Homo sapiens: one gene and its partners. The protein of the gene in region 2 interacts with the protein of the main gene of each other region in a pairwise test. Each region holds a gene or a part of one and is shown on either strand. Other genes may lie near its edges.

Evidence for each region.
Region 1: the proteins of CCDC167 (region 2) and TACR1 interact in binary tests that used the Homo sapiens proteins (3 or more experiments, as listed by UniProt).
Region 3: the proteins of CCDC167 (region 2) and MS4A3 interact in binary tests that used the Homo sapiens proteins (3 or more experiments, as listed by UniProt).

Annotation. Positions count from the first base shown.
Region 1 is NC_000002.12:75,192,789-75,196,542, forward strand, and holds part of TACR1 (substance-P receptor), read right to left. Parts: intron 1-3,754. UniProt on the Homo sapiens protein: This is a receptor for the tachykinin neuropeptide substance P. It is probably associated with G proteins that activate a phosphatidylinositol-calcium second messenger system.
Region 2 is NC_000006.12:37,498,365-37,502,118, reverse strand, and holds the start of CCDC167 (coiled-coil domain-containing protein 167), read left to right. Parts: upstream 1-2,225; 5' UTR 2,226-2,255; coding exon 2,256-2,297; intron 2,298-3,754.
Region 3 is NC_000011.10:60,059,597-60,063,350, reverse strand, and holds part of MS4A3 (membrane-spanning 4-domains subfamily A member 3), read right to left. Parts: intron 2,206-3,754; 5' UTR 2,191-2,205; coding exon 2,035-2,190; intron 1,829-2,034; exon of another isoform or gene 1,797-1,828; intron 884-1,796; coding exon 746-883; intron 1-745. UniProt on the Homo sapiens protein: Hematopoietic modulator for the G1-S cell cycle transition. Modulates the level of phosphorylation of cyclin-dependent kinase 2 (CDK2) through its direct binding to cyclin-dependent kinase inhibitor 3 (CDKN3/KAP).

The DNA of each region.
Region 1 (3,754 bases), on a different chromosome or scaffold from region 2:
TCATTGGCATGATGAAGATTAAATGAGACAATGGACTGGAGGGAACATAAATAAAAGATATCATTATCAATTTTATTAACATAAAACTTCCTTTCTAGTTTCCAAATGATGGATATTAATAAATTATTATGAGTATTCCCAATCCAGTGTTCTTGAAGTTAATTAAAACACAAAACTCCACATTCATTTCCCTGTGCCTTGCTGCCTCTCTTCCTCTTTGTCGTTTCCTCCTCTTCTTTCTCTTCATTCTCTTTCATTCTGTCTCCTCCTTCTCTTTTCTCTCCCCTCCATCCTCTCTCCCCTACTGCCCTCCCTCTCCTTCTTCTTCTCCTTTTACCAGGAAGTCTTTCCCATATTCCCAAGGGAGTTCTTTGCTCTAACTCTGCTCCCTCTGCATGGCATTGATTGCATTGGGTTATATGCTGTTCGTGACCTTGTTAATCTCCAAAGACTGAGACACAATGGCAAAGGCAATGTCTTACTGCCTCAGAATATGGCACACAGTAAGTGCTCAATAGTGGTTTGATGGACGGATGGATGAGGAAAGAGATCATTCCCTTCACTGCCATCTAATTTTATTTCCTCTTACCATTCTCTGCTGATATTGTCTCTTTGATCCCTGGCTTGTCATTCTCTAGCCTCACTTCTCAAGTTTCTTGTCGGGCATTCCAACTAATCGTTATATTTTCATGTCAAATTCAACATAGAGTATTCTCATATTTTTCTGGGCAACTCCTCAATTCATTCCCTGATTCACCTGTGAATTCACTTCGGTTGAATCAGTCTGTCATTGACCTGAGGCACTTTGCAACATTTGACTTCCATGCTTCTGTCATACAGCTTCTTCTACCTGAAAGGTCATTTCTTTTTTTTTTAATCAACTTCTCTAAAAATCTTATCTAATCTTCAAGGCCTAACTCAGTTGCCCTATCTTGAGGTCTTCCTTGATCATTCATCACTGCTGGGCAGGATGTCCCTCCTCTTGTCTCCTATGGAATATATCTGTACAACCCATATGAAACATTTTACTTAATACCTTATATTTTAGTTACCTCTAAATCAGTCTTATTTGCCTTCATATATAGCCCTTTGAGGGAATAAACAAGGCTGTGAGTTAGGAAACCTCACCTTACCTTGATGGCATCAACACTTGATAGACTGAATATCTTTATCTAAGTTTGATGGTGTTTCTGTCTCATGATCCTCACTCTAATTCAGCAACAATAATAGTAACAGTGTCTTGTGCTTGTGCTATGTGCTTTTATTTTGAGAATTATTCTTTATTTGCCTCCAATTCAAACTATGATTTCTTCCAGTTTTTTAAAAAAGTAACACCCTTGACCATTCAGGACACTGCAGGCTCCCAGGAGTAGGGAGAGAGTGTGGCAAGTGTAACGGAGCAGCTCCAGAGAGGAGGTGGGCATTGGACCTCTTGAAGAAAGGCCCTGAAATCTAAATGACCCATCTGAGAATTAACAAACTCCATTTTGATCCACATCAATGCTGACATTGGAAAAGACAGGGCCAGTTGTGGCCAATGAGCTTCTAGTGAATGGCCATTCACAGCATCACAGCAGTGCATGGTAATGGGTTTCCAGGGCCATCCGAATTAGTGCAAAGGATCCTGGAATTTAATTCCCCCTCCAGGTGGGGTGAGGGAAGACTGCTCTGAGATAAACAATGAGATTGCAGTTCAACCAACAAGGTAAAGTTCAAGGATAGAGTGCAGGTCTAATAGAGACCTGGAAAGCAGGATATTTAAATTGGTAGCTGAGTATGGCTGGGACAGAGTGTGTAGACACGAGTTCAGTGGACAAAGTTTTTGTGATTTATTCATGTTTTTGTTCTAGGTTCCTCTTTTACATTATCAGCTCTCTCAGAGAGCTCAATTCCTCTTTTGCCTTCAACCATTACTCTCTCTGGGCAACTATATTTTTTGGTCTCAGAGAGACCATTTTATTTGGAGTCTGAGTGAGCAACTGCTACCTTTCATTTTGCTGAAATTATGCTTGCCCCTACCAGGTAGAGAAACAGTGATACCAGGCCAGTGCTTGTCTGGACCTCGCTGTTGCTCCTGTTGCTATGTGCATGGTTTCAAATCAGGTTATCTGTTGCCCATTCCCCAGCTCCCTGCAGGGCTTGGAGATTGCCTCCCTTCCTCTACTCCCTTCTTAGGTTCTGCTCCACAGTACTTGCCAGAGCATCATAATAGAACCAGTAATTGTCACCAACTCCTGAAAATGGGGGTTAGGGGAACGGGGCTGTTGAGGGGGGAGTCATCACCTCTCTGTGTCCCCCATCTTCAAATTTCATGAAACATCATACATACCTTTTAGTTTTATAGTTGTAAAGAATTTTTAAATTCTAAGTCAGAGAAATTATAGAGTTTCAATAGCTAAAATCCCTGGTATTTGTTGGAGTTTAGATAGAGGTAAACCTGATCTTATTTAGCTACATTTGTCTCTGAAACATTTTTAAATTCTAGGTAACTGCTGCCTTCAAAAAATAAAACTCTTTCTAATGGAGATATTTCTTCCCTCCCCTCCTCTCCTATCCCCTTCCCACCTCCCACTTTTCTTCCCTCTTCCCTCCTTCTCCTACCTTCCCTTCCTTTCCCCCCATCCCTTTTTTTCCTTCCCTGACCCCACCCCACCTTTCCTGTAGAAAGACTACAGGAAACATTTAAATTAGTACTGCAATCTGCAACTGAAGTTTTTCTCCGCATATATCTTGATTCTAATAGGAAATTTGACAAAGTTTACCAAGATAGTTTGACTCAACAATTCCTTTAAAAATCCTTTAAAATGAGAAGATATAGCTTTTTAAAAATTCATTTTATTTGATGTAGTAATTCTACTTATTGGGATCTATCTTAAGAAAATAATCAAGAAGGCAAAACAAAATTATCATATATAAATATTCCTTAGATTATTAATTATAATAGCAAAAATCTAGAAATCACCTAAATACACAACAGTAGAGAAATGACTACGTAAATAATAATAGCATATTCACATAATAGAATAGTATGAAGCCATTAAGATTATGTTTCTGAAAACTTTTGAATAACACAGGAAGGTGTTATTAAAGTCTTTCATTAATACCAATGGAAAAATATAGGCTACAAAATTATATAGAATCTAACCTCAATTATGTAGTATAATAGTCATAAAAGAGAAATTCAAAGGTTAGCAGGTGTTGCTTCTTGTCGGTTAGGTAAGGGGGATTGGATTTTTGTGCTCTTCATATTTCCCAAGTCTTCTGCAGTGAACAGGTTTAATTTTACAATCAGGAAAGCCACATTGCTGTTATTTTTAAAGACTTGATTCAAAGGTTGTCTGTTAAAAATTCAAGGAATATACAAACAGCTGATTTAATATTTCCTCTAAGTCTGCATTTCCATGCTGGAGAAAAGGGAGATAACTTACAGGGAGAGGACTTAAAGCCCCCTTTCTTTCCAATACATTCTTGGGAGAGAATGGATGACCACACATGCAGGAAATATATTCATTGGAAGGCCTGAGGGGGTGAGTTTATAGTGTGCTCACCAGGCTGAGCAAGAAAAAATAGAAGGAGCACTTGGCAGACATGGAGACAGAGACCTGAAGTCTCATCCCTAATTCTACCTTGAACTCTAATCTTAGGAATGCCATTGGTAACCTCCCTGGGCTGTATCTGCATGTTGGAAACATGGTGACATTCCCTGTCGCTGTCATTTCCTAAAGCTCTGGCATCCGAGACCTTTTGGTCTCAC
Region 2 (3,754 bases):
GCCAGGCGAGATGGTATCTCAGACGCCTTCCAGCTCCATCACTCAATGTCTCTATCAAGAAGAGAACACAGATCTGAAAACATTTTTCCCCCTAACACTGAGTTGGGGTTATTATTCACATACAAAAACACAGGCACCAACAGAGATAACTGGTCAGGAAATAAGGAGCTTTGATTCTGGTCTCATACTCTTTGACCTAGTAATTCTACTTCTGTGAATTTATCTTAAAGAAAGAATCCAGAGGACAGAGCTGTGTGCACGAAAAGGTTTGCTTTCGCAATATTTGGAGTTACTGTCAATAAAATGATGTCCAATGCAAGAATGCGAGAGACTCCCTTGGTGGCACATGAGGCCACCGCAAGTGATAATTTCAAAGACACAGAAAAACATACTTGGCAGTGTTTTTCAAATTGCAGTTCAACCTCCATTAAGGGGTCATGAAATAAACCTAAGAGGTGTCCTGCCACCAACTTGTTTTTGTTTATTTTTTTGAGATGGAGTTTCGCTCTTTCACCCATGCTGGAGTGCAGTGGCACGATCTCGGCTCACTGCAACCTCCGCCTTCCAGTTTCAAGTGTTTCTCCTGCTTCAGCCTCCCGAGTAGTTGGGTTTACAGGCGCCCACCACCACGCCCAGCTAATTTTTGTATTTTTAGTAGAGACGGGCTTTCACCACGTTGGCCAGGCTGGTCTCAAATTACTGACCTCGTGATCTGCCCAGCCTCCCAAAGTGCTGGGATTGAGAGGTAAAGCCAGCTGGACTTCCTGGGTTGAGTGGGGACTTGGAGAACTTTTCTGTCTAGCTAGACAATTGTAAACGCACCAATCAGCGTTCTGTGTCTAGCTAAAGGATTGTAAATGCGCCAATCAGCACTCTGTAAAAACCCACCAATCAGCGCTCTGTGTCTAGCTAAAGGATTATAATGCACCAATAAGCACTCTGTGTCTACCTAGGGATTGTAAATGCACCAGTCAGTGCTCTGTAAAAACGCACCAATCAGCGCTCTGTGTCTAGCTAAAGGATTGTAAATGCACCAATCTGCACTCTGTAAAAATGCACCAATCAGCACTCTGTGTCTAGCTAAAGGACTGTAAATGCACCAATCAGCACTCTGTAAAATGGACCAGTCAGTGCTCTGTAACAGGGGACAAATAAGGGAATAAAAGCTGGCCATCCCCCAGTCAACAGTGGCAACCCACTCAGGTCCCCTTCCATGATGTGGGAGCTTTGTTCTTTTGCTCTTCACAATAAATCCTGCTGCTGCTCACTCTCTGGGTCCGTGCTACCTTTAAGAGCTGTAACACTCACCGTGAAGTCAGTGAGACCAAGAACCCACCTGAAGGAACCAACTCCAGACACAGGATTACAGGCCTGAGCCACCGTGCCCGACTTTGTTTTTTTTTAATTAAATAGGCAAGAATACAAAATAACAGAGTGCATTACAGGAGGTAAAGGTACTTACTGTGAAACTTTGGTTTTGGTTTCATGGGTAACTGGGCCATGGTATAAAATACATTTTTTTATCGTAGGGTCACAGTCAAAACATTTCAAAGGCCGTGGGTCTATGGTGTACAGTATAGTACGATTACAACAATGTAAAATACTGTGTGTGAGGCCAAGCCTGGGAGGAATAAACAGAAGCAAAGAGGAACTGATAAAGTTGGTAGAATAAAGGATGCTGCTTCTCAGTTATATGTTTTCTGTGATGTTTGTAGGTTGTTCTTACAATAAAACAAACCAAAAAAAAAAAAAAAAAGAAGTCAAGACACAAAGGAGAAATAACAATAGAGGGCCATTATCAGATTCCATTGGCCGAGAAGCTCAAGGCTCCAGCACCGGCCTTGAAGGATGGACAGACTTTGAATGGGGGGCGTGGCCTAAACAGGGACGGGGTTGTTGCTGAAACACAAAACACACTGAAAGAGAACATGGGGTTAAAAAAGGCTCTCAGTGATGCAAAGCGGCTTAAAACTGGGGAAGAAAGGGGCAGGTCTACTCCCGGGCTGTACATTCTGCCTCCCTGTACCGACTTTTCCACCCTCCACCCATCTAGGCTGAGGTCTCAAGCTAGAGGTTGCCCCTCATAAACATGTCCGCACCAAGCCGGCCGCGCCCCTCAACAAGATGGCGACGGCAGCAGCCCCACCTCCCGCTGACTCGGTGGCCAATGAGGGAGAAGCACGAAGACTTGAGCATGCGCACATAGCGACTTGGTGGGCGCGTCCAGTGATGACTGGGGGATCCCGGCAAGTAACATGACTAAAAAGAAGCGGGAGAATCTGGGCGTCGCTCTAGAGGTGAGGGGAAAAGTGGGGGTTGGGCCACCTCGTTAGTTGCCTTCTCCTGGCCGCGGGATAAGGGATAGGCTGGGCTATAGATAGGAGGAGGAGCCAAGCGTAGGATGAGAGGGCGACGCGGTTTGGGGAGAGGGACGGGAGGGGTGAGAAGGCCCACGGGGTTCCCGGAGGACAGGGAGCCCGAGGAGGTGCCGGATGGGCGAACCAGACTCTCTGGAGAGGGCATCTCCAGAGAGGAAGAGACATGGAAGTGAAGGGGAGCCCCAAAGACGGCCTGGCATAGAAGTGAGGGAACTCAAAGCGGGGGACACAGAACAAAAGGGATGGGTACAGAGGTGAGGGAGACCCCAGAGAAATAGGGACCTGTAGAATCTAAGGAGAACTCCCAAAGGGCTAGGACTCAAAGATGAGGGAGCCCATTCTGGTGTATATTATTAATGGTTTAAATATCCTCTAAAAGGGGAAATTTTTCCTCCGGAGTATGGAAGCTTGTACCTTCAAAATTACTTTGGGAATATGTAAAGAGAATTCTGGAATTGGTGATGTCACTGAATGGCTTAAAAATAATTTGCTGCATATAGAAGGGAAAGAAAACATACATACTGAGCAACCGCTATGTGCTACTTTCATTGCATTGTTAATCCTCACTGCAAGCCTGTGAGGTTTGTACAGATGAGGAAATTGAGGTTCCAGGTGGAACCCAGGCTGAGATGGTGGAAGTGGTGGAGCCTGGGAATCAAGCACAGGTGGTCTTCCTGGAAATTCATCTTGCTTCCCCTGTTTTCCTTCCCTTAGGGCATCCTCCCGGAGGTTGCAGGAGAGGTACAGGGTCATAGTCTTCTTCAGGCTTACTAGTGAGTTCAGTGATTCTCAAACTTTAGCATGCATAGAGTCACAGGGCTTGTTAAAAATGGAGAGTTGAACTCTTCCCACACCCCGAGTAATTCAGTAGGACTTTGATGTGCATTCTTAACAAGGAATCTGCTTTTTTTTTTTTAAGACAGAGTCTCGCTCTGTTGTCCAGGCTGAAGTGCAGTGGCGTGATCTCGGCTCACTGTAAACTCTGCCTTCTGGGTTCAAGCGATTCTCGTGCCTCAGCCTCCCGAGTAGCTGGGATTACAGGCACGTGCCACCATGCCTGGCTAATTTTTGTATTTTTGTAGAGACGGGGTTTCACCGTGTTGGCCAGGCTGGTCTTGAACTCTTGACCTCAAGTGATCTGCCCGCCCGCCTTAGCCTCCCAAAGTGCTGGGATTACAGGCATGAGCCACCACAGCCGGCCAGAATCTGCATTTTTTTTTTTTTTACAAGCCACACACACCCCATGGTGATGTGGGTAGTTTTAGTGGCATCCCTTGAGAAATATTGGCCCACTTGGTAGGAAAAAGGTTGATGGAAATGTGAAGAGGATGGTTTATGAGTGGTGACTGAGATGGTACTTTGTGGCGGGAAGAACA
Region 3 (3,754 bases), on a different chromosome or scaffold from region 2:
ATTTCTTCTGATTGAATGTTGACCCAGATAATGGAAATGATTCTTCTGACTTTCAGACAGTAATCAGCAGACAAATTTCTTAACTCTCAAGCCAGGACTCTCTGCTGTACCACAAGGCAATTCATCAATACCCATTTTTCATTCAATTTTTTAAGTATCTATAAATGTAACATATAGTTATATATAAGATAATTTTTAGGACTTCATTTGTACTTGGCAAATGTGGTTTCTCTTAATCAGAAAGAGATTTTTGGCCTGGCATCAGGGCTCATGCCTGGCAATTCCAGCATTTTGGGAGGCCAAGCTGGGAGGACCACTTGTGGTCAGGAGTTCGAGACCATCCTGGAAAACATGGTGAATCCCTGTCTCTACTAAAAATACAAAAACAAAAATTAGGTGGGCATGGTGGTGCATGCCTGTAATCCCAGCCACTCAGGAGACTGAGGCAAGAGAATCACTTGAACTGGGGAGGCAGAGGGTTTCAGTGGGCAGAGATCATGCCACTGCACTCCAGCCTGGATGGCAGATCGAGACTTTGTCTCAAAAAATAAATTAATTAAGTAATTAATTAAATTAAAAAATAAAAAAGAGTTTATCGTCTCTAATTGTTTATATCAAGAATTGCAAATCAAAACCACAGCATGCAACCTTCCAATAACCTACAAACAATATTTTTGTCATCAAACACATCTCCAGCAGTGGTATCTAAGAAATAACATATAGCCAGGGGAGTACGAATACTCACAAACACAGCACCCCAAATCGGGTAGCCTGTGTAGAAGGTGAAGAAAAAGAAGTGCTTTTGGAAGTGGTATGGGTATTGCAAGGAACCCAGAAAGACACCCAAAGCCAGAATCATTGCTGCATTCAGGATCTGGATGGCCTGAAAGAAGAAAGGGGAAAAAGGCGTAACAGTCATATACTAAAGTGGACACTGAAAACAGGCCATTTTAATTTTCCTCAGAAAGGAGATGTCGGTGCTTGAAATGGTTAAAGTGTCAAGCCTAAATTAACAGAACGAGAGCTTATCTGAAAGAGTTTTTTATTCCACGCTATCCACACCAATTCCAGTGGCAGCATTTTGTCTTCACCTCTCCCCCACATTTCTGTTCATTCTCACGAACTCCTCTCAGAAAGTGGCAGGACAGTAAAACAGACATGATTGGTAAGGTAGATGGAGTCAAAGTCTCTTCCCAGCATGCTTTTGCATCATAATATGATGAAGGCAGACAGAGGATAAGCCATATCCTACTCAGCCTTTCTCTCAACCCAATTTTTAACCCTTCTCTCAACCCAATTTTTAAATTTAAAATATAGAATATAAGCTTCATAGAGCTCAGCCTCCTCAAATGGCTGGTCAAAAGGCACAAAACAAAAAATGAAGGGTCTTGGAATCTGTTCTCCAAGGTTTGATGTTTTCTACCATGAGAAAATGCCTTTGCATTTCTGCTCCCCAGATCTATAAGAAGTCCCTGTCTTTTCTCCAATCATTATTAAGTCAGTGATAAATAACTCAGAATTTCCTCCTTCTCAGCATAAGCAAGGTTTTCTACATGATACAGTTGGCTCTTGAACAACATTGGGGTTTGGAATGCCCACCCTTTCATGGTGGTAAATCCACGTAAAACTTATGACTTCCCAAAAACTTAACTACTAATAGCCTACTGTTGACCAGAAGTCTTACTATTAATATAAACAGTCGATTATCACATATTTTGTATGTGACATATTATATACAATAAGCTAGAGAAACTAAAAACGTTAAGGAAATCATAAGAAAGAGAAAATGTATTTACTATTCATTAAGTGGAAGTAGATTATCATAAAGGTCTTCATCCTCATCCTCTTCACGTTGAATAGACTGAGGAAGAAGAGGGAGAGCAGGGGTTGTTCTTGCTGTCTCGGGATGGCAAACAGAGGTGGAAGAAATCCACATGTAAGGGAATCCTCACAGTTCAAACGCACGTTATTCACAGGTCAACTGTATTTATTTTCTTCCCTCTTAAATCAGTGTTTAAACTAAGGCTGACTTACCCCAAGAACTTGTAATTTTGCTTTCTGATAATCTGGTGATCCATCTATGGGCTGGTAGACAGAAGTATTCAGCTCTTCTGGTCCCGCCTCACTGCCTGGGGTACCATGGGCAGAGGCTGACCCCAGCTCTGCATTATCAACTTCGTGGGAGGCCATTGGGGTTGTTTATGGCTGTGATAGAAAAGAAATCCAAAGCCTTCATGCTTTCCCTTTTTCCACTAGCTACTAAAATTTTGAGTGTTACAGAAGGGTTCAATTCTGTCCATACATTACAATGACTCTCCACAAATGGGACACCAGGGCAGAGTAACAGAGTTTGTACAATATTCAATTCTGTCTTGCCTTGGAGTAGTAGACATCATCGGGTCATTGTAGTAGGCCTTGGTGCTTCACTTAACTTTGGAATGGTAAAGAGCAATTTCTTTCTCATTTTGCATGCACTGATATATAGTCCCTGCCTTTCTTCAAGTCAGTCAAGGGCAACCAGACATATGGTTTCTCTGAGCAGTGGTCTCTTTATAAGAATAATGGCTTTAGTCACATTCCAGTAATAATAGTAGGTGTCATTTATTTAGTACTTATTACTATATGCCAAGCACTGTCTGGATGCTGTGAATGTATTAATATACTTAATCCTGTTATAATATTATTATTATTCCCGTTTCACAGATGAAAAAAATTGAGGTATAGAGAGACCGAGAAACTTACCCAAACTCATATGGCTTATAAATCATTTCAGATTTTACTAAAAACATTCTACTCTAAGGTCCAATATTTTTCAAATCACCACATTATATAGTACTATATAGAAGACGTCTTTCTGAGTACCAACATAGCATGGTAGAGTTTAAGCACTATGGAAGATCCAAATTCAAATCCAGATTTCATCATTTACTAGTTGCATGACCTAGTAATGGGAACCTCAGTTTTCAGAGTTTAAGCACTATGGAAGATTCCAATTCAAATCCAGATTTCATCACTTACTAGTTGCATGACCTTGTAGTGGGAACCTCAGTTTTCACTTCTGTAAAAATGGGAATAATTTTAATTTTATATTAACATTGCGAGAGTTGACTTTGATAATGTACGGAATTCTCAACCTGTGAACAGGTGGTATCAGCTTTTAACTTATACTCTGCCTTCTAACAAAAAGGACTTCAAGTTTGTATATATATAAGGGTCACAAAACAACCACCTCAATCATTACAGCTGAAAAATATGTATCACTAAAGTACACACAGAATGCTTACATTGGACTTCTGAATGTTGGGCAAGATAACTTCCTAATTCATAGTACCCTCCTACACAAAATAGTTGTAAAATGCTTATATGCTTTTATAACTGATGAGGGAGATGGCATGAGATGAACCATAAACAAACACATAAAATGATGCTGTATTCTGCCATAACTATCGATTGGGTTAAGAATAAGATCTTAATATAAATCATTCTACCATAAAACACATGCACGTGAATGTTCATTGCAGCACTATTCACAATAGCAAAGACATAGAATCAACCTAAATGTCCATCATTTGTAGACTGGATGAAGAAAATGTGGTACATACACACTGTGGAATACTATGCAGCCATAAAAAGGAATGAGATCATGTCTTTTGCAGGAACATGGATGAAGTAGAAGCCATTATCCTTAGAAAGCTAATACAGGAACAGAAAACCAAATACCACATATTCTCACTTATAAGTGGGAGCTAAATGC